Linked DNA regions of Homo sapiens. The protein of the gene in region 1 interacts with the protein of each later gene in a pairwise test. Each region holds a gene or a part of one and is shown on either strand. Other genes may lie near its edges.

What was found. The genes of interacting proteins can lie anywhere in the genome.
Region 2: the proteins of NTAQ1 (region 1) and MOB2 interact in binary tests that used the Homo sapiens proteins (3 or more experiments, as listed by UniProt).

What each region holds. Positions count from the first base shown.
Region 1 is NC_000008.11:123,426,774-123,430,273, forward strand, and holds part of NTAQ1 (protein N-terminal glutamine amidohydrolase), read left to right. Parts: intron 1-1,150; coding exon 1,151-1,250; intron 1,251-3,209; coding exon 3,210-3,260; intron 3,261-3,500. UniProt on the Homo sapiens protein: Mediates the side-chain deamidation of N-terminal glutamine residues to glutamate, an important step in N-end rule pathway of protein degradation.
Region 2 is NC_000011.10:1,480,280-1,483,779, reverse strand, and holds part of MOB2 (MOB kinase activator 2), read left to right. Parts: intron 1-2,893; coding exon of another isoform or gene 2,894-2,894; coding exon 2,895-3,055; intron 3,056-3,293; coding exon 3,294-3,387; intron 3,388-3,500. UniProt on the Homo sapiens protein: Stimulates the autophosphorylation and kinase activity of STK38 and STK38L.

The DNA of each region.
Region 1 (3,500 bases):
ACATGGTGAAACACCATCTCTACTAAAAATACAAAAGTTAGCTGGGTGTGGTGCTGCACGCCTGTAATCCCAGCTACTCAGGAGGCTGAGGCATGACAATCACTTGAACCTGAGAAGTGGAGGTTGCAGTGAGCCGAGATCACACCACTGCACTCCATCCTGGGCAGTGAAGTAAGACTCTGTCTCCAAAAATAAATAAATAAAAAAAATAAAATTATGTCCCTTTCTTACTAGAGGGGCATGGGGAATCCCACTCACAGGGATTCCCCCAAATGAGTTCCCGGACATATCACATAATTGCTCCTGATTCTTTCCAGCCAGGAGGCTTTCAACCCAAAACACCCATCCTGCCCCATTTCTAAAGAGAGCAGGGAACCAGTGTTAACTAAGATTTTTGTGTGTTTACAGTATATGATTATGCCCATTTTACACATGAGAAAAGCAGATTCTTGGAGAAGTCAAGATGGTCAAAGCTTTTTTTTTTTTTTTTTTTTTTGAGTTGGAGTCTTGCTCTGTTGTCCAGGCTAGAGTGCAGTGGTGTGATCTTTGGCTCACTGCAACTTCTGTCTCTCAGGTTCGAGCAATTCTCCTGCCTCAGCCTCCCAAGTAGCCGGGATTACAGGCACCCGCCACCATGCCTGGCTAATTTTAGTATTTTTAGTAGAGACGGGGTTTCACCATATTGGTCAGGCTGGTCTCTCTGCCAGGCTGGTCTCGAACTCCTGACCTCGTGATCCGCCCGCCTCGGCCTCCCAAAGTGCTGGGATTACTGGCCTGAGCCACCACGCCTGGCCTTTGTCAAAGGTTCTTACCTTGTAAGTGGCTGAGTTAGAATTTCAGCTGTATTACAAGTTGCTGGGCCCAAAACTCATAGAATATTGACATATTTTATCAGTTATAAAATGCCTCCATGTACAAGCACTGCTAGGGGAGGTAATTAGCTCTGTGTGGAGAGGGGTTTACACACAGTATAGGTTGAATACCAGCTTGTTGGGATGTTTTAGAGGAGATTCAGACATTAGCCAGTTGTTGGATGACATGGGGTTTAAGGTCTTTTCCAACTTTTTGATGTCATCATCAGTATTTTGTTCAAATTTAAAAGACACATAGAATGTTCTCTAATCTTGATTAAACAATTATTTTATTTCAGTGAAGAAAATATTTGGAAGCTCTGTGAATACATCAAAAACCATGACCAGTATCCTTTAGAAGAATGTTATGCTGTCTTCATATCTAATGAGAGGAAGATGGTAAGTTGGTGAGTGATTGCAGAAAGAAAACAAGAGATTTAGGATGACATTAGAAGCTAAATTAAAAAAAAAAAAGCTAAATATAGCATGGGTGTAGTACTCTTCTGAAGTGTGCTTTATTAAATACAGCAACATTTAAAAGCTTGCTTTTGAATGAGATTTTTTTCCTTACAAGGCACGATTGAGTTAGAAGAGTTGAGTCCCTTCTGTCGCCCAGGCTGGAGTGCAGTGGCGTGATTCTTGGCTCACTGCAACCTCCACCTCCCGGGTTCAAGCGATTCTCCTGCCTCAGCCTCCCAAGTAGCTGAGACTACAGGCATGTGCCACCACGCCCAGCTAATTTTTGTATTTTTTAGTAGAGATGGGGTTTTGCTATGTTGGCCAGGCTGGTCTCGAACTCCTGGCCTCAAGTGATCCTCCCACCTCAGCCCCCCAAAGTGCTGGGAGTACAGGTGTGAGCCACCATGCCCAGCTTAGTCCCTTACTTTAGGTAAGGAAATATGTGATGGTCTACGCAGATAAAGTCCCTTTTCTTTAGGTATCAATGTAGACCTGTTTTTTTTTGTTTGTTTGTTTGTTTTTTCTTTTATTTTTTGGTACGGAGTCTCACTCTGTTGCCCAGGCTATAGCACAATGGTGTGATCTCGGCTCACTGCAACCTCTGCCTCCCAGGTTCAAGTGATTTTTGTGTCTCAGGCTCCCAAGTAGCTGGGACTACAGGTGTCCCACCACGATGGCCGGCTAATTTTTGTATTTTCAGTAGAGACAGGCTTTCTCCATGTTGGCCAGTCTGGTCTCGAACTCCTAACCTCAGGTGACCTGTCTGCCTTGGCCTCCCAATGTGGTGGGATTACCAGCATGAGCCACTGTGCCTGGCCATTTTTTTTTCTTTTTTTAAATTCAAGATGGAAGATGTAGACTTTTTAAAAATTGCTTAGAGACGCATACTCTCAGTTTTAAAGTAAGGATTTGTCTCTGGAGTTTAAATAGAACTACAGTCAACTTACATGAAGAATTAGAAAAAGTAAGCCCTTCATATTTTGTAAAACACATTTGCAGGCATCATCTCATTTGATCCCAATGGAAGCCCTGTGAAGCAGGCAATATTTGGACAAGTTTCTTCATTTTATAGATGAAGAGATTAAGACTTAGGGTGGCCCTATGAATAATTAAATGGGAGAGCAAGATTTGATACCTGCCAGGACTTCTGATTCCTAGTTCAGATCCCTTTTCACTCTCCAAAGACCATCATACAATAACTAGTGCTCTTGAGAGCTTTCATTGTTGGGGATACTTAGAAGGATTTCGATTTCTTCCTCTTCATTCATTCCTTCACCTTGATTTTTGCATGCTTAAAAATATTTTATTTCTCATGTATGTATTGCTTTAAATAGTAGTAGCCAGGTACAGTGACACGTGCCTGTAGTCCCAGCTACTTGTGAGGCGGCTGAGGCGGGCAGATCTCTTGAAGCCAAGAGTTCAAGGCTGCAGTATACTATGATGGCACCTGTGAGTAGCCACTGCACTCCAGCCAGGGCAGCATCACAAGATCCTGTCTTGGCCAGGTGCGGTGGCTCACGCCTATAATCCCAGCACTTTGGGAGGCTGAGGTGGGCAGATCACTTGAGATCAGGAGTTCGAGACCAGCCTGGCCAACATGATGAAACCTTGTGTCAAAACCCTTCATCAAAAAATAAAAATAAAAAATTAGCTGGGTGTGGTGGCACACGCCTGTAATCCCAGCTACTTGGGAAACTGAGGCAGGAGAATTGCTTGAACCCGGGAGGTGGAGGTTGCAGTAAGCCCAGATTGTGCCACTGCACTCCAGCCTGGGTGACAGAGCAGGACTCTGTCTCAAAAAAAAAAAAAAAAAATCCCGTCTCAAAAAAAAAAAAAGGAAAATAATTTAGTAGTGGTTTAACTAAAGGTATGGCTTACGAAATGTATTGTATTTTGTAGATACCTATCTGGAAACAACAGGCGAGACCTGGAGATGGACCTGTGATCTGGGTAAGACAGTTAATACAGAGAGTATTGACGCATTATGACTTGTAACCCCTTAGTGTTCTGTATGTTTTGGTAAAGCAGAAGTGACCTAAGCAGTAGAGAAAGGCTATGGTAATTATTAATAAATTGACCTTTTGAGAATAGATGTTATTTGATCTAAGGTAGAAACACTGTAGGCATATTTTCTTTTAACTTTTTGTTTTGAAATTATTATAGGAATGATTTTAAATGGTGGATATATTT
Region 2 (3,500 bases), on another chromosome or scaffold:
GGTGCCAAGGAGGCCGACTGGCACGTCATGGGTACCACTGGCGAGAATGGGGAGGGTGGCATTTGACAGGCTCTTAAAGGACCAGGAGAAGTTTGCTAGGCCTGGTGTAAGATGGGCAAGTTGGCAGAGCAGCAGCTGGTGCCCACAAACAGGGTGCAGACCCCTGTGGCAGGCAGGACAGGTCATCTAGAGCAGGGAGGAGGGAGGTGAGGCTGGTGAGTGTGTGGGAGGCAGGAAGGAGGTGGTTCCATCTGGCCCGGCCCTCCTAAGTGCATGGTGCCTGCCAGGCAGGACCCAGGCTCAGAGCCCACCTGTTGGAATAGTGTGAGGGACTTTGTTTTGGGGGCTGTGCACACAGCATCTGCCCTTCTGCTTCTTCCAAGTGGTCACGGAAGCCCTGTGGGTGGGCTGAGGTCCAGGGTCCACTCCCCAGTCCCTTCAGCGCCATCTCTGTCCTGCCTGCGGCCGGGGCCTGCTCCCACAGTCCTCCCTCCACATCGAAGGACTTGGTCTTTCTGTGCCCCGGGGCTCCTAGCCAGCAGCACAGGGGGAGCTGGGAGCAGGGCGCAGGGCCTCGGCACTTCCCTGGGTGAGGGGCAGCTGGGCCACTGAGGCAGTGACTGGGCAGACCTCTGGGCCTGGACGGCACAGAGCCTGTTTCAGAGCCTGTGAGCCTGCGGGGGGCGCCGCAGAGGTGTTTTCTCCACTGGGCAAAGCCAAGAATGACTAAGGACGAGAAGAGTGCCATGGAGGTGTCGTGTGCTCTGAGGCCTCCTCGGTAGCTGCCGCTGGCTTGGACCGAGCAATGGGCTGCCTCAGAGTGACTGCTTCCTGCCCAGGCCTGGGCCTTCGCTGAGAGCCTGCCCTTCTGGGAAGGAGGGCACTTGAGGTCAGGGAGACGTGGGTGCTGCCAGGCGTTCGGGGCTTTCCCATGGAAGTCCCTCTGTTGGTGCCCGCACAGCCGTTCCTGGAGCAGAGGCCATGTCCTGCGCGTCCCCTTGGTCCTACTACCTTTGGGCCAGTGCCCGTCCACCTGCCCCATGGGAATGAGTGACCCGGTCCAAAGAAGGTAGGCTTGCAGGAGGCTTGTCTCACAGTGCACTAAGCTCCGGGGCCCGGCCAGCCCTGGGTGCTGGGGACAGGGTGAGACTGGGGGAGCAGCTCGGGGAGGCCCAGCCTGGAGGGCCTCGTGCGTACTTTTCTTCTGTGTTCTAGGAGAGCAGGTGTGGACGGGAAGAGGCAGGGAGGCTGAGGTGCCAGTGCCGGAGTGGCGGCTGCTCACTACCTCCTGACCACAGCCAGAGCCTGGGAGAGGGAAGCCAGGTCTCCAGGTTCTGCCCCTGCCCAGCCCTCTCTGAGGACCGGAGGTGGAAGGTAGCCCCAGCCTGGAAGGCTGGCAAGGGGGCAGGAACTGCCAGTAGGGCAGCCTCCCTGAGTGGGCCCTGGGGCACACCCTGAGAGTGAGCGCGCTGACAGCTGCTCCTGCTGGCAGCCCTGCGTGACCGACCACCAGGTAACTGCCACCTGGAGCTTGCCAGTTGACACAGCTCCTAAGACACAGAGCAGGGAGACGGCTTGTAGCCCGCTTGGCAGCCTGGGCCACTGCAACCCACCCCTCCAAATGGGAAGGCCGAGCCCAGGCTGTAGCTGCCCGGGTGGGGTGTGGTGTGCTGTGCTGTGAGAGCACAGGGCAGGGAGGTGCAGGCCCACCTGCCGGTGGTCAGGGCCAGGCCCAGCGTCATGGGGAGAGCCTTCCCTGTGGTGGACACGCTGGGCATGGCCTGGCACAGGCTGGTGTGGAGTCTGGGTGCCTCGCTGTGCTGGGGCGAGGGGCTGCAGGCTACACGGAAGCTCACCCTGTCTGTCCCACCCCTGTACTGTGAGGACCCCAAGTGCCCACGCTGCATGTGGCCCATCCACACCTGTGCTTCCTCTTCCTCAGACCCCACGCCCTGTGCTCTGGAGAGATGGCAGAGTGGGAGTGCCAGGGCCCAGGGGCCCTGCCCCTGCCCCTCCCTGCCCCTGCCCCTGCCCCTCCCTGCCCCTGCCCCTGCCCCTGCCCCTGCTCCTGCCCCTGCTCCCTGCCTGGCTCTGGCTACTCCCAGCACTGCCCCCAGAGGCCTGCGCTGGTCTCCTTTTAAGGCGAAGATCTGCTGTGAGAAGCTGAAAGGGAAACATTTCCCTGGCATTCAGGGAGCATTTTTCCTTTCTCTTTCTCTTAAATAAACCATTAGCAACTTTTCAAAACAAGAAAGAAAAAAAATAAGGACAGGGTCAGGTTGCCACAAAGACCTTTGGCCCCCATCCTCATCACCCTGTGGCCTCCCCAGGCCTGGTGGACAACAGGGATACTGGAGCTGCAGGCCAGGCTGCCGCCTGATGCCAGGGGCCCCGTGCTCTCAGGCTGGCCAGGAAGGCAGGTGCCCTGCACAAGGCCTGTGGTATGTTTTCACCGGGGCCACCAGCGGCAGGGGCAGGGACAGGCTGGCCAACTCAAAAGAAGCCAGGAGTGAGAGGGTTTGCTTCTCCTTTCCTTCCAAGAGCACTGGAAAACTGGAAGGTGGGCGCTGGGGGCCCTAAACCCTGGGCCCCTCCCTGGTTGGAGGACTTGGTGAGGGGTGAGGATGCCCTCCGTGCAGGGGCCCGTGTGGCAAGTGGGAGCGCCAGCCCTTCTTCCCAGGAGGTGCCACGCAAGGCAGCTCCACTGGCCCCTCTGCGGAGCAGCCTCACCGTTGGTGTCCCGTTGGTGTCCTTTGAGCCTGGCAGGGAGGCAGTGTCGCCCCGATGGGCTCGGGCAGCTCCCTCTACACCTGCGCTGGCCACAACTGACCCCCCGGGCAGACCCTGGGTCTGATGGGCGTGTAGTGACCACACCGCGTCTCCTCTCTTGGCAGGAAGTCCAAAGCCAAGCCTAATGGCAAGAAGCCCGCTGCGGAGGAGAGGAAGGCCTACCTGGAGCCTGAGCACACCAAGGCCAGGATCACCGACTTCCAGTTCAAGGAGCTGGTGGTGCTGCCCCGCGAGATTGACCTTAACGAGTGGCTGGCCAGCAACAGTGCGCGGGGGCCTGGGGGCGGGCCCCCTCCCTCCTCCCTGCTCCTCCTCGAAGCCCCTCCTCAAGGGGGACCCCCACGGCTGGTGCTCAGCAGCCCCCTGCCGCGAGGGGAGAATGTGGCCCGTGGACGGGCAGAGCTCACCCAGCCGAGCTCCTGCACCTGTTGCTGGAAGCAGGGGTGGACGGGGCGGCTCAGCTCTGGCGTTTTTCACATCTGGCTCCTTCTCTTCTCTTCCAGCCACGACGTTTTTCCACCACATCAACCTGCAGTATAGCACCATCTCCGAGTTCTGCACAGGAGAGACGTGTCAGACGATGGCCGTGTGCAACACGTGAGTGCTGCCTGGCTACAGCCCACTTTCTCTTGGGAGACTCGGTGGGGCTCTGAGCCCCCGCTGCCCCAGGCTCCTGTCCTCTCAGATTCCGTTCTCACCTGGAGACCCTG